3 separate regions of the Homo sapiens genome follow, and regions 2 and 3 are each linked to region 1. The links come from fine-mapping of genetic effects on gene expression. A gene starts in region 1. Each other region holds a variant in brackets. All regions are shown on one strand. Distances are from middle to middle. Region 1 holds the start of WASF3 (WASP family member 3). Region 2 overlaps WASF3 (WASP family member 3). Region 3 has its middle 42 kb from the start of WASF3.

The links. PIP is the estimated chance that this variant, and not a neighbour inherited with it, causes the effect.
Region 2: its variant is the best candidate, but not a certain one, in a credible set for the expression of WASF3 in whole blood (INTERVAL, PIP 0.61).
Region 3: its variant is the best candidate, but not a certain one, in a credible set for the expression of WASF3 in subcutaneous fat (GTEx, PIP 0.64).

The regions. Positions count from the first base shown.
Region 1 is chr13:26,554,918-26,560,147 of GRCh38, reverse strand. WASF3 (WASP family member 3) reads right to left here and starts at 2,465. Exons shown (of 10, transcript NM_006646.6): 1 at 2,329-2,465. RefSeq lists silencers at 2,362-2,571, 2,832-2,891.
Region 2 is chr13:26,597,394-26,602,623 of GRCh38, reverse strand. The region is part of intron 1 of WASF3 (WASP family member 3); the gene reads right to left. Among named protein-coding and RNA genes, the nearest start is that of WASF3, 42 kb to the right of the region's middle. The variant C/T (reference allele first, on the strand shown) is at 2,249.
Region 3 is chr13:26,513,116-26,518,345 of GRCh38, reverse strand. No RefSeq gene overlaps it. Among named protein-coding and RNA genes, the nearest start is that of WASF3, 42 kb to the left of the region's middle. The variant G/A (reference allele first, on the strand shown) is at 2,447.

The sequences.
Region 1 (5,230 bases):
ACGGACTGAGAAGAGAAGTTGAGAGATTCGGCCGGGAGCGGTGGCTCACGCCTGTAATCCCAGCATTTTGGGAGGCCGAGGTGGGCGGATCAACCTGAGGTCAGGAGTTCGAGACCAATCTGTCCAACATGGTGAAACTGCATCTCTACTAAAAGTACAAAAATTAGCCGGGCATGGTGGCGGGCGCCTGTACTCCCAGCTACTCGGGAGTCTGAGGCAGGAGAATCGCTTGAACCCAGGAGGCGGAGGTTGCAGTGAGCCGAGATCACACCACTGCACTCCAGTCTGGGAGACAAGAGCAAGACTCCGTCTCAAAAAAAAAAAAAAAAAAAAAAAAAAGAAAGAAAGAAAGAAAGAAAAGAAAAGAAAAAGAGATTCAAGGTCTACAGCAATGGAGAGCCACCCAAAGTGAAAAACAATCTGGGAGTACTCTTCAAAGAAAGTCCTTGGAATTCCAAAGACGATCACTAGTACTAGCCCGTGAGTAGGGACAATTCATTTAATACTTGCATTATAACGCAATTGTTTTAATCAAAACATCCCAATAACCAAAAGGTTACCTGCCATACATAGGTTTCTATGGGAACCGTAACGTGTGACTACAAAGACACACTGACAAGAGATAGGAGGTTACAATGTTGGCATGACCACTTAGCAAAGTGTGTTCCACCTTTGTTTTCGTAATTGTTGAAGATAGTGAAGCACATCATTGACTATTAGGTTGTAAATTTTAAAGCAAACAGATTTTTTAAAAACAAATGCTATTAAGCAACTTCATGTCAGCCAACTGGAAATGCAAGAACAATTTCTATATGTACATAGTTCTAGAATAAGCACAGGTTGGAAGGTAAATATAATAGTTGACCAAACTTTCCAATATTTAAACATGTGAAAAGACACAGCTTTTGTGAATACCAACTAAGAAAATCTTTCAAGATGAAGAAAAATGAGTACTACACTGAAGTCATTAGAACCCTGGGAGAAGGGAGCTGGAGAGGACACAATGAGAATGCCTTTGGGAAAGGTCAAACCCAGCTTTCGTTTGTTTAACCTCTCAAGCAGATAAAAGAACTAGCTTTAAAGAACCACTGCATTGTTTAACTGCTAGAAAAGGAGAGTTGGGTAAAGCACATATAAAAAGAAGCAATAGAATTTGCCCTAGAGACAATAGAAAGATTAGTCAATTACAATACTTTGAACTTAGTTTTGATAGAGTCGCATTTTAAGCTTTAGATAAACCTAATTTTTAAGATGCAAAATATTTCAAATAGCTATCCTCTCCCCCTTATAAAAAGTAGACTCTGAATCTTAAAATACCATGTTCTGCTATGCATTTAATTTGAAGAACTGCGAAAAGTAGTCTTTTTAATTTTCAGTTTTTGAAAACTCGAGACTGTTGCTGGAAGTAAACCGCTAATTTAAAAATTAACCTTAAAATGAGAAAGAATTCCTATGATGCTCCCATTGATCCCTAAGCCCATCACATAGTTTCTGAATAATTAAGAACTCTCGTCTCCACCAGGGAACTCTCCCTTGCAGAGGGGCCAAATCAAGAAGCAATCGCCATTGCACGTCAGCACCACAAACTGAGAGGAAGCTTCTGCCCTCGCTAAAGCCCAGGCGCGCGGGTAAAGACCCCCGGGGATGATACCCCGCGCGCCGCGGCTCCGTGCGCGCGGTCCCCCGCACTCGCGGGCCGCCCCACCTCCTCCCCTGCACTCCAAGAGTCCGGCCTGGTCTCCGAGGCCGGGAGCCACGCGGCACCGCAGCCTCGAGGGAGAGGACGCCCGCAACCAACACGCACGCGGGCACCAAGAGGGCACAGGCCAGGGCGGCGAGGGCCGAATGGGGCCGGGGGGCACGCGGAGCTGGACCAGAACCAGCGAGGGCGCGCAGACACTGAACGGATGCGAAGGTCCCGGACGCGGAGCGGCCCGGGGCGTCGTGCGTGGGGCGCGAGCGGAGGCCCGGGCGCCACTTACGGCGGGGAGGGCGGGTGGCTGTCCCGAGTCCAGGGAGCGCGCACCGGACGGCAAAGGGCCGGAGGCCCGGAGGCGCGGGAGAGAAGGGCCGCCTGGCCGCGCCGTGACGGCGAGAAGCCCCTGCCAGCGCGGGAGCCGGCCGGGAGAATGCGGCCGGGCTGCAGGGATAGGCGCGAGGCGGCGCCGCAGCCCGCAGTGGGCCCCGCCGCCCGGCCGGAGCGCGCGGCGATGCAGCAACTTCAGTTCGCCGTGGGGCCGCCCCTCCCCCGACAGCCGCCCGGCCCGGAGCCGAGAGGGCCACAGCAGCCTACAGCGGAGAGCCGGGGCGACCGCAGCCCTCACTCACCGGTCCGCGGTCCCGCCGCCGGCGCCGGGGCTGCGCTCTGAGCTCCATGGTCCCGCCGCGCCGCGGCCGCCCGGCGCACCCGCCTCGCACCACACCGCACGCAGCGGCGCGAGCGACGCCGCCTCCGGCCCGTCCACGGCCGCGGCCACGCCCCCTCCCGGCGGGGGGGCTCGGCCGGAGCAGGAGGGGGGCTCAGTGCCGGCTCCACCAACCAGGGCCAACTCACGGGGCCGCTTCACCAGGATTGGCGAGTGCCTCGGCCAATAGGGAGCCGGCGAGCGCGCTGAGCGACGGTGCCGAGGGGCGGGGGATTGCGGAGGCGGTGGCTCTCACCCTTGGTCCTCCGCCCCCAGCTCGGGATGAGGCTTAGGCAGCGTCCTTTCCAGCGAGGAGAGGTGGGGATACTTCGGGCCAAGAGACCCTTGTATCACCTCTGATTGCTAGGTGCCCATTACAGTACCTTTGAGTTTGCGCTTATATCCTAATCCTCCCTGGGTGTTGAGGGCTCCTGCACAGAGGTCCTCTACCTGTAAGGTGTCAGACGTCCTCCAGGGCTGAGGCTTCAGGCAACCCTGAGAGGACTGTAGCCCTGTTCATGGGTTGGTTTTATGCCCTGCTCAAATTCGTTAGCATTCTTAAAATCTTCCCATCTCCTTCAACACAGATTCTTCTGTTTTTATCACCCTATAACCAATCTCTCTCCACCCTAGATGTGAGGAAATCCACAATACTTATTAAAACTAAGATATCCCTGAAACTGCCAGCTAAGCCCTGCCACAGTGGAACATAGCCACGTGCGACCAGATGACTGAGGCATAAACAAACTTAAGAAAAAGAAAGGAGGAAAGGAAAGGAAGAGAAGAAAAGATAGAAAAGCCAAGATAGAAAAGCTAGGTCACAAAGGAAAGGGGTTTAAAAACATCTAATAGAAATGTTACCTTTATTTTAATTTGCATGCCTTTATTCTTTTTATTTACCAATAGGATCACTAAATTGAAAAACTTTTAGGAAAAAATTTTAAATTCTAATGAATAGTTCAAGAAACACTAATTCAAGTTGGTTTGCTCTTTTCTTTACAGATGTGTAATAATGATCAACATCTAGCTAGAGACAACTAAAAGTTGGAAAAAATGAATAGCAGTTAATAATTTCACCAAAGTTTGCAACACCAGAAATGCAGTAGAAAAATCATGCAGCCCTCTTCATAAAATGTCTAATCTATTAACCTGCATTACTTCCAAAGGAGGGATTTTAAAAGCTCTTTTTAAAGATGACGTATATTCAGTTTCCATAAAGTGCCATCATTTTAAAAAATTGCTGGTAATTAACAAGGTAAACAGGATTTTGGTGAATAATTACAGTGACCCAGTATTTTAAATATTGATACTAGAGTGACAAATGTCTGCTGAATTGAAAGCTAAATTGGCATTCAAATTAAAATGACTTTCCTTCATTTCATCTTCACTTACCCAGGGGAATGGCTTCCATGTCTATGTTTAGGTCATTAATTTAGAACTCAAAAATATGAAAGTATAGATACCCAGAGTGTTTTCAAGGTTGCTAATCATATTTCCCTGGCTGCTTCCCTCTTCGGTGACCCCAGCCTTATAAACCGCTGCTACACTTAGTTTGCACTCACTGTTAGCCCTTAAACACATCATCCCAAAGTGTTCAGGTTTGTTTCATATAGGTCAGTCTTACCTCTCTAATTAGATCATCAGTTCCATGAGGATAAGGCCCTTATTTTACAGTCCTCTTTCCTCCTTTTATAATGCCTAGTACAGTGCTGAGCATGTGGTAAATATGATTCTATTCCTAGTGTTGTGGTTCATGGTACAAATAAATTATTTCAAATATGGTCTTGTGTGAACCAGTCCTTTAAATAAAAACTGCTTAGAGCAGTCTTGTTAGAGGATTAGAGCCCACCGCTAATAAGTGCCTCATCCTTAATAAAATGTTGCTGCATCAGGGAGTGAATTGGTGACCTGTAACAGAATCTTGACTAAAAGTGCCTACTAAATAGGAGTGCTTCTTATCACAAAACCAGAAACCTGGAGACAGCCACAGGGCTTCTGTAATATCTCTTCTATGGTGTCGTTGTGTCTCAGGCTCTTTCTAGCCATTGTCTCTGCTATCCTTGTCATGTGATCTCTGTCTTCATCCTCACAGGATGCCTGCTTCCCTTGTAAGCATTGCATCACATTGAGGAAAATGGTAGGGGGATGGGTAAAGGGCAAAAGATCAAAGAGGTGCATGCCCAGTTGGGTCTGCATCTTCCTGGGAAGCTTTACCCAGCACCTTCTGCTTGCATTTTATTGGCCAGCCACATGTCACATGACCACCTTTAGCTGCAAAGGAGTCTGAAATGCTAAGTATTTAAAGTTGGGGCATTGGCTGGAGGAATATTAGAGTTTTGTTAGTAATGGAAAAGAGGAATGCAGACCTTGGGTATGAGAGTGGCAGTACCTGATGTAGTTGCTGAATAAATGAATTCATGATTGAGCCCTCACTCTATTTATTCATAAGACCCACTTTTTTAAAAAGGCCACTCAGGTGTCAATTAAAAAACAATCCAATTTTCAAGTGAGCAAAAGATCTAAACAGACACCTCCCTAAAGTGGAGTTGACAATACACAGATGGCAAATAAACATGCTCAATATCATGTGTCATTAAGGAATTGCAAATTAAAACAAAAATGAAATACTATGACATACCTACTAGGATGGCTAAAATAAAAAAGCTAACGGCAACAACAACAAAAAACCTAAGGATACCAAATACTGGCAAGGATACAAAACAACAGGAATGCCCATCCATTGCCGATGGGAATGCAAAATGGTACGACCACTTTGGAAGACAGTCTGGCAGTTTCTCACAAAGCTAAGCATAGTCTCACAATTC
Region 2 (5,230 bases), 42 kb before region 1:
CTATAACAAAGAGATTCATAAACCTGTACCCACAGGGGATCCTATGTGTTCAAACAAAACTGACAAACACAGCAGTACCATTTTTACAACATGTCTACATTCAAAGCTCCTGAGCCTCTAGTCAAAACCTAACTCACTATATCTAAAGTAATCAGGGAACTAAATGGCCCACCATCATGCCACAAGAATACTACAATTTATGAGAGAAGATACAAACGAACAAAAACAAGGAAAAAATGACCTCCTAGAAATAAATGTAAAAGTTCAGTCACCTAAGTAACTCATTATTGCCAAAAACATTTCTAGCATCAAATTCTATCTCCAATTAATTAAGTAGCAGTAATCATTTAATCAGTGGCATCCAATATAATCCTGTAGGAAACATTTTCTGAAGCCCAGAGGCTGCATGGTAAAGGGGAAAGATCAGAGGTATGGGGGTCAGAGATCTGAGTTCCACCCCGGAACTACCATCGAAAAGCTCTGGACCTTGGAAGAGTTAGTACTGTTTGAGTCTCAAGCTCCCCTTTTATAAAAATAAAGCTAACCATACCTCCCCTTAAAATGTGAAGGGGAGGATGAAGTCTTATGGACAAAGAACACAGCAAGGTAGCAGAGGCATTTAATAACCGGCAGTTATTATCCCTGGACAACTAAAAGCAAAACATGCTCCCTGTCGGCAGACAAGCACAATCACCACAATCTGGCAAATTTACTCAGCCCACTCTTGGCAAAAAGGAAGTGATGATATCTTTGCATTTGTGTATGCAGATGACAGGCCACATCCTCATTCTTTGAGGTTAGGTGGCAGCACTGATCTGTCTCCAAATGACAAAACTCATGCTTGAGGCCAGTGGCCAATATATCACATATCCCTGAACCAGCACCTCTTTGTTTTCTACAAATAAAGATAATTATGGCCAATTTACTCACTGAAAGGGTACAGGAATGTAGATATTCCAAACAGTTGATATTCTGATATTTGAAATCCTCATGTTTATTTAACTAAAGCTTCATTTGCTCTTGTAGAGTTTTCTGTTAATAACTTGAATTCTGCATAAAATGCCAGCTGAATCTGTCAACCCTGAAGGCAGGAGGGTACCAAGATCCAGATTCTGCCCCTATCCTCTCCATCATCCCCCATCATCCATACTCCAGTGACAAGATGCTTCTTTCAAAGTCTAGAAGAGCCCAAAGGCAGGCCTCATCTCTGTAGAACCTTGAGCACAGGAATAATGATTAAATGACTATAGAACTCCACATACAAAGTAAACTGAAGAAATTAAAGTGGTAATAAACCTATACACAGAGACAGTCAACAGAATTAAAATTAAAGCACTCCAGTAAGTTACATCTACAGTATTATCTTCTCCCCTCAAAACTGCTGAGATAAATGGAATTCCATGGAAATTTCCTAAAATAAATGCTACGTAATTCACATACCAAATACACAGAGATTAAGTACCATTTTTATCAATCTGCTTAAAATTAATGACCTCAAATCTTAATACAAAAGTAATCAGCAATTTTTAAAATACATCTGAAAGCAAGTGAATGTTATTGCACCTAAAAGTGCTGAAAATACACTATATAAACCCACAAAACCATGAGATTTCAACACAGCATGGCTCTATCTACTATATAACCTATAAATGTAAGCATTTTCAACCTAAGAGAACCAAATTGCTAATCATCTCTACCCTGCCACAAAGAAATCACCCTGACTATATACCACATTCCCACAACTAAGGAAAGGAGGAAAGACAGAAGTGGAGAGGTGGAGAGAGGGTGTGTAGGGAAGAGACATTAACATTCTACAGTGCTGCGACAGTGTTTCTTCTTGGAGGTAATAAGTAATGCAGAGCGGATGCTCCTGTTCGTCTTTTGGTGATGAATCCAACACAAGATTAAAGTCATGAAAGAGGAGCTAAAACATCTGGCCTCCAGTACTAACCAACCAACAGCAGAACGGAGACACCCCAGCTCCCATGAGCATTGTGAAACATCTTACTAAATACACCTTCTTAATCAGGATTTGTATCTGAATTCTCTGCTGGGATGAAAAGCTAACCAGGATTGTCTCTGCCCTGCCCTGACATGAGAGCAACCAGAAAGGAAAAAATGAGAAGCAATGTACTTCACTGCTACTGAGCCTGCCATGCTGAGCCAGAACTCTGCTTTACATTCTTAGCCTCTCACTTGGTCCTCATAGCAATCCTATGAAGTAGGAACTATTAATATCCCCATTTTA[C/T]AAACAAAGGAACTAAGAAACAGAGAAGTGAAGTGGCTTGCCCCAGGTCACACAGTACATAATAGAGTTGAGAGTCAAACCTAGAAAACCTTTTTTCAGAGACCATGCTTTTAACCACTAGCCTTCTCTTCTTTTATTTGAAATGAAATATAATCTTGCTGTAAAGACAGCTCAGGAAATGTAAAGCCATCCTGTATCCATCCCACTCACCTTACTGCCCACTCTACCATTAAAGGTAAATCTCAAAATCTTTCCTACAGTAATCCTAGTCAAACCACTCAAGCCCTGGGAAGTTTACTTTGTACTTCTGCATCATTTAATCTTCGGAGCCCAAAGAGGATGACAGATGTGGGTGTTTTAACCTCCAATTAACAAAGCAGTACTTTCAGAGAGTAACTGAATACTACTACAAAGCTCTAAGTGGCAAAGCCAAGGTGTGAACTCCCCAGTCCACTTAGAAATGATGCCTTTTGGAAATATTTTATCCACTTTGCCTCAATGAATCAAATCCCATGGGATGACTGTAACCTCCATTCTATAACATTACACAGAGACAATTTGCCCCAGGATTTAGAAAATGTGGATAGAACACAAAGAAACCTACAGGAAGTAAGTATCAGATATCAAGAAGGCCTTCATAGGCAAAGTAGTAATCCACAGCTGTTTTCATCTGTGGCAAAGTGGTGGAAAGACAAAGAATCTGCCAATAGATAAGGGTAAGAAGATACCAGCTGAACTGTTAACAAACTTTTAATGTCTCCATGTGAGCTGAAATGATAGATTAGAATCTCCAGGAGCCCCAAAACACAGCAAATCTGCATCCACTTGCCAACTCTTTCCTGTGGGCCTTAATCAAATACACATGGGTAGTGCACAAGGTGCTAGGGCAGGAGAGCTGAGAGAGCCCCTATGTCACGTCAGGCACCTGTGAAGTCCCTAGATGCAGAGCAGCAGCCTGACACCAGGAGGAAGGCAAGTAAGTGGACAGAAATCAGCTTTTACCATCTCTACAAAAAATACAGAAAATTAGCCGGGCTTGGTGGCAGGCACCTGTAATCCCAGCTTCACCAGAGGCTGAGGCAGGAGAACTGCTTGAACTCAGGAGGCAGAGGTTGCTGTGAGTCGAGATCAGCCACTGCACTCCAGCCTGGGTGACAGAGCAAGACTCCGTCTCAAAAAAAAAAAAAAAAAGAAATGAAAAGAAGAGCAGGGCAGGCCAGGCGCAGCGGCTGACGCCTGTAATCCCAGCACTTTGGGAGACCAAGACGGGTGAATCACCCGAGGTCAGGAGTTCGAGACCAACATGGCGAAGCCCTGTCTCTACTAAAAATACAAAAATTAGCCAGGCGCGGTGGCATGCATGTGTAATCCCAGCTACTCATGAGGCTAAGGCAGGAGAATCGTTTGAACCCTGGAGACAGAGGATGCAGCGAGCCAAGATCGTGCCAGTGCACTCCAGTCTGGGCAACAGAGCGAGACTCCGTCTCAAAAAATAAATAATAATAAATAAAATTAAAAAGAGCAGGGCAAAGAGATACCTTCTGAGGAGCTGAAAGCCATCGAAAGAGTATAAATAACTCACCACTGTCCAGAAAGGCTAGCAGCCAAGCTATAAAACAAAGAGAAATCTCCCACCACTCAGGAAGCTGGCAGCTTGGCTCTGAAGCATAAAGAGATCTCCAAGATCTTACTGGGGTTCGGAGTGAAAACTGCCGAAAACAAACTCGTGATCCCACTCTCAAACTATGTGAATCCAATGGTAAACTGACTCTAATTAATGCTACTTCAAAGCCCAGATCCAGCTCAGTCCCCCTCATTAACAGTGTGACAAAAGGAAGAGCAAGCCTTTTGCCGGGATAGATATTCCTCAGTCTTTCTTGTTCTTAATGTCCAGCAAACAATAAAAAATCATCGGGCCGAAGAGCTTCTGCACAGCAAAAGGAACTACCATCAGAGTGAAGAGGCACTACAGAATGGGAGAAAATTTTTGCAATCTACTCATCTGACAAAGGGCTAATATCCAGAATCTACAATGAACTCAAACAAATTTACAAGAAAAAAACAACCCCATCAAAAAGTGGGCAAAGGATATGAACAGACACTTCTCAAAAGAAGACATTTATGCAGCCAAAAGACACATGAAAAAACGCTCATCATCACTGGCCATCAGAGAAATGCAAATCAAAACCACAATGAGATACCATCTCATACCGGTTAGAATGGCGATCATTAGAAAGACAGGAAACAACAGGTGCTGGAGAGGATGTGGAGAAACAGAAACACTTTTACACTGTTGGTGGGACTGTAAACTAGTTCAACTATTGTGGAAGTCAGTGTGGCGATTCCTCAGGGATCTTGAACTAGAAATACCATTTGACCCAGCAATCCCATTACTGGGTATATACCCAAAGGATTATAAATCATGCTGCTATAAAGACACATGCACACGTATGTTTATTGCGGCACTATTCACAATAGCAAAGACTTGGAACCAGGCCAAATGTCCAACAATGATAGACTGGATTAAGAAAATGTGGCACATATACACCATGGAATACTATGCAGCCATAAAAAATGACGAGTTCATGTCCTTTGTAGGGACATGGATGAAGCTGGAAACTATCATTCTCAGCAAACTATCGCAAGGACAAAAAACCAAACACCGCACGTTCTCACTCATAGGTGGGAATTGAACAATGAGAACACATGGACACAGGAAGGGGAACATCACACACCGGGGCCTGTTCTGGGGGAAGGCAGAGGGATAGCATTAACATGTTAAATGACAAGTTAATGGGTGCAGCACACCAACATGGCACATATATACATATGTAACAAACCTGCACGTTGTGCACATGTACCCTAAAACTTAAAGTATAATAAAAAAAAAAGACTAAAACGTAAAAACAACAACAACAACAACAACAACAAAAAATCAAGGGGCCAGGCGTGGTGGCTCACGCCTGTAATCCCAGCACTTTC
Region 3 (5,230 bases), 42 kb after region 1:
AATAAAAAACAAAATCAAGGAAAAAACCCTTCAATACACTGTGTTACTAGAGGCATGCCCTAAGAAATTCTCTAAAACAAAGCTGATTGGAAGGGGTGATACAATGAATCAGAAATACTGCCCAAAAGAAAAATGGACAAAAGAGAATATTGCAAAGATTACCTGCCTGAAAATTCTCTGCTCCTGGAACATGAATCACCCAGGGCACACCATCTGGTGAGCTGCGAAGGCAGCTTTAAGCAAGCGCACCTGCTGTCATGTACATCTTAATTATTATATTTTATGGGACTCTAAATTTTATTGAAATACAAATTTGTTTACCCAAATTTCTCTTTGCCATATGGCTCAATAATTGGGCCTGTCTCATAAACTTCATGGGGTCAGGATGAAGCATAATGATGTCCCATAATAACATGTTATTCCAGAATAACAAGGTCCCGGTCATTGAGAAGGTCCAGTTCTGTCTTGGGAACCGGCCTCGAGGACTTAAAACACAATTTGAAAATCTCTCCCAAAAGAATTGCCCTCCACGACTGCTCTCAAATCACTTGAGTAATTTGCATTGATCTTAAAATGGACAGAAATTGTAGCAAAATCGCTCCTCATGGCTGGGCAGGGAGGGGCTCTCTTTTCTGAGGCTTGCTCATTCTTGACAAAGGAACATTTCATTTTGTCACCATAGAAAAAACAATTTAGGTTTCTTATGAAATGGCATATTTTCTGGTGAGATAGAAGGATCCTTCTACTCTGCAAGAAGGAGGAGGCTTTTTAATAAGCCCAGTGTTCCCTTTCTTCATTTAGAAATTGTCTCCTGGTGATCTTCAGAATTAGTCTGAAGACCCGAGGGGTTTGTGAAAGCGAACAGCCCGGGCTGTTCTCCCTCACGTTCTTATTTCATTCGTCCCAACTTGGTGCTGCCTGCAAACAGAGAAGGGAAGACAGTCCCAACAATTTTCACCAGGAAGATAATTGTTCCTCCACTGTGTTAACAGGGAGAGGGGAGCTATCACATGCAGCTCTTGGGAGCTGAAAACCAAGCTCAGAACAAACAGCAAAGGCTTCCTTGATTTACCCCAGCCTGGAGCTGGAACTGCCATTCCCATTGCTGTAAGGGTTACCCCAAACTGGTCCCAGCAGCTGGAAAAGACTGGGCCCTTCAGGAAGCTTGGGGCCCAGAGCCAAAGCAGGTGATGGGTTGAAGTGAGCCATCCTGGGCCAAGGATTAAGGAGCTGGAAGGCAAGAAAGTACAGGCAAATTGATTCTGGCTGCGTAGAGGTGCCTCTGGGATGCAGACCTTTGCATGGGGTGGCTGTGCCTCAGGAACTGGCCATGGCTGCTCGTGTGCTGACCCTGGCAGGAGCTGGGGGCTTGCTCCTACATTCCCAGCCAGGCATGAAGTCCAGGGATCTGCCTCTCCTTCTCTGCCTTTTTTATATTAATTCTAGAGATGATATGGATGATGGTGATGATGGACAAAGACGATGACAAAGGTCATCTTTGTTCTTCAGTCACCTCACTGTAAGGTAGGCAGGTTGGGGGATGATGCCTATTTCAGAATTTAAGAAACCAAAGGTCAGAAAGTTTAAATGATTTATTCCAATCTCACAACGATAAAGTCAGGATTCAAATTATTTGGAGTATATAACTCCACATCCTATGTTTTCATCCTAAAATCCCCCAAGAAAAACCTAGGGGCTGGCCTTTAAGAAATGTCTAGTCATAATGCTGAGAGTGTGTTTAGCCTGCCGAGGGCAGGATTTTCAAAGTAAGGTCATAAAACTCATAGTCTTCTGTTTATACTTTTTTATTTGACAAGTTCAAGGTTGCCTGGAAACAACTAGCAGAAGAAATGAAAAACCAATATCACATTTTTTTTTTAAATCCAAAAATCTAATTGAATTTATTACTCAGATGGGAATGCTGGTTTTAAAATTCTATTTTTAGATAGCCTTCAGAAAGTTAGCTTGCCTTTACTTTAACTAACAAAACTTATTGAAAATGACTTTGTCAATCCACAAGTCCCCCAGAGGTCTCCTTAATGTTTCTGTTCATCAGATAGCGCCAGGAAGGGAACACAGGACATCATCCTTCCCCCGAGGTGCTTGTTATCTGGTTGGGATTGCTGGTACAATCACCAAACAAGAATTAGTACATGAAAAGAGCCCAGAAAGAAGTGAGATGGGGGTATGGACAGGGATGTGCAGGGATATGAGCACATACTGACCAGCACTTGATGGCTGGTAGGAAGCTCATGATGGGTGAGCGGCTGGATAGATGGATGGATGAGCCAAGGTCATTGCGGACAAAGGAAATGCATGAGCTCATATGCACCAGTGAGTGGGGTGGGGATGACAGTGGAGGCTGAGGGCAAAAAGTTTGGGCTGCCCCGGAAGGTTCCTGGAGGAAAGTAGAAAGCATGCTTGGAATGTCATACCAGGACAAATG[G/A]TGGCATGTCAAACAAAGCAACTGGGGTTTTAACTGAGGCACAGTGCAGAGGCCTGGAAAGTATTTTGGAAAGCCTGTGGAATGCTAAATGATCAAATGGCTTATGCTGGAGTGGACCATGAGGAGGCCATTGGGCCAGAATGTCAGAGTAGTCAGAGAGCTGGACTACGGAAAGAGCAATGAGAACAAAAAGAGACAGGGAGATTGAGTAAGACACAATGACAACTGCTACCGTGCGTTACTGTCAAAGGCTGCAAGGTCCTACTCAGGAAATCTCTGGGGTTTGCTCGGGTTTGGGAATGCCTGAGACAGTCCTCAGACAGGAAAGGAGGTGAGGAACCAAAAAATAACCAGGGCAGAAGAAAACAGAGCTTTTTCAGACATGGATTCTGCCATTTTTCACACTCCTTTGTCCCTCGTGCCTCTTTAACTTCAGGCACAACATCTATCCATCCATTGAGCCCGTCAATGAATAAATATGTATTAAGAGTCCAATACAAGCCAGGAGCCATCCTGGCCTGTCTGAGGCCACTTCATTGATTTATGTTTCCTCTGCAGCTCTTCCTCGGACCCTGCCCTGTCTCTTTCCAAGACTGACACCTGAGGCTCCATTCCTAGGACTTTTCTACTTTGTGTTGACCTTGGCTTTCTTGGTATAGTTATTTGTGTGATTCTCATCACCACTGACTTGAAGGGAATTTCCAGGACTAATTCTCAGGGCCACATGGTTTAAGGATAGACCACTGCAGGCTGAGTGTCCCCAGCTTGGTGACCTGTCCCACTACTGTTCCACCTGGTAGAAGGAATCGTCCTTCTAAAGCAACCACCTAGGCTGTTTCTCTTTGTAGCTGCCTCGATAGTTCACAGTGGCCTCTCACAGTAGCCTAAAGGTTTTAGGCTATTTCAGCAGTTCTGCCTCTCGGGTGTTCTTCTGTACATGCACTCATCCTGCTTCAATGGGTGGCCAAATTTCAACATCATCCATAGCTTCTATGTGGGGTTTACCTCCAAGGTACCTGATCTGATGCTAGGTGTTTTACTTTATTTGTATGTATCAGCACAAAGAAGGAAATGGCAGAGCAGAATTTTAATCCACCCTCCCCCACTTTTTTTTTTGAGACAAAGTCTTGCTCTGTTGCCCAGGCTGGAGTGCAGTGGCACAATCTCAGCTCACTGCACCCTTGCCTCCCGGGTTCAAGCGATTCTCCTCCCTCAGCCTCCTGAGTAGCTGGGAATACAGGCATGTGCCACCATGCCTTGCTAATTTTTTAAAATTTTTAGTAGAGGCTGGGTTTCAACATGTTGGCCAGGCCGGTCTTGAACTCCTGACCTCATGTGATCTGTCCGCCTCAGCCTCGCAAAGTGCTGGGATTACAGGCGTGAGCCACCACCCCTGGCCTAATCCATCCTTTTAACGGTGCTTTCTTCTCACTTATCTGTAAGTCATCAGTTACACCAGTTTTCAGCCAAGAATATCCCAGAAACTCTCGAACCAAATGTTCATGCCACTGCTCACATTTCATTTCTTCCTTGATGGCTTCCTATAAGGAACCAATGTCAGCGAATCAGAAAATGACCTGGAATCAGAACTTTTTTGAACTGGAAGGAACCTTAAAGATCATCTCTTTTCACCCATTCTTTTTACAGATGAGGGAACTGAAGCCTCCAAAATTAATTTGCTTTTTTCTAAGGCCACCGGCTATTGGGTGATGAAAGCAGCAGTACAGCTCCATACTCCTGCCTCTGCCCCCGGAGCAGAACAGATGTCCACCTCTCGTCAGAGGCAGTCAGGGGCTGGGGCAGGCACTGAGATCCACCCGTCCTTCCTACCTCCCTGATTGCTTGGCATTATTTACGTCTGATTTCCAAATAGGGCTTTTTGGTTGTGATAATACAGTTTAAATGAGATTTTCTGCCCAACTGCAATCTGGCTGACCTTTCTGCAGTTTGCCTTCTCCAGATCCCGGGAAATGTTTGAAGTGAAATTTACAATTAAGTTGATTTCTTTTAAAGGTTAAACCCTTGATTTTAGTTCCAAATCCTTGCCGTTTTATTTCAGCTTTGAAAAATTTCCAGATTTTCCATTTTATGAATATACCACTGTCAAAACTACACAAAGAACCTAGAAGTCAGTGTTAGAATTAGTCTATATAACAATTAATGGGAATATTACGCTATGTTCACACCAAGATATCTACAAAGATGAGTGGAGACAACGCCCTGAACAGAGATTTTTTTCCCCCATCTTCTCTGTAATTTAAGGTTGCATGGTTAAATACTAAACAACTCACAGCTGCAAAAAGGAAGTTGAAGACAGTCTATAATTTTGCATCAAATGCAATTCCAAAAAGGTTTGTGATTTTCGATAACAGCATTGTTACTCTGATTCTTTCCTCCTATAGTGCTCTCCCTTTAATACAAATCATAAAGGAGTCTATGTTTTGAAGTATCAGAACCTCCAATGCAAGAACCAAAGAAGAATTGTTAATTTGTCCACAGGCCTGCAATTTTGCCATTTTAGATGCCTAAGACATTATCATCAAATGCTTCAGTGACAGTCTTAAATTAAGCCAAGGTGAAAAGGAGATATTTTTGGTGGTCGTTTTTTATCAGTAAATGCGGTCATATAATCATAAAATTATGTGGGCAGAGAGGTGGCCTGAAATGTGTCAGGGCACAAAATAACTTGGCATTTAAAAAATACCCAAACAGGCTGGGCGCTGTGGCTCATGCCTGTAATCCCAGCACTTTGGGAGGCCAAGGGGGCAGGATCGCTGTCACGCG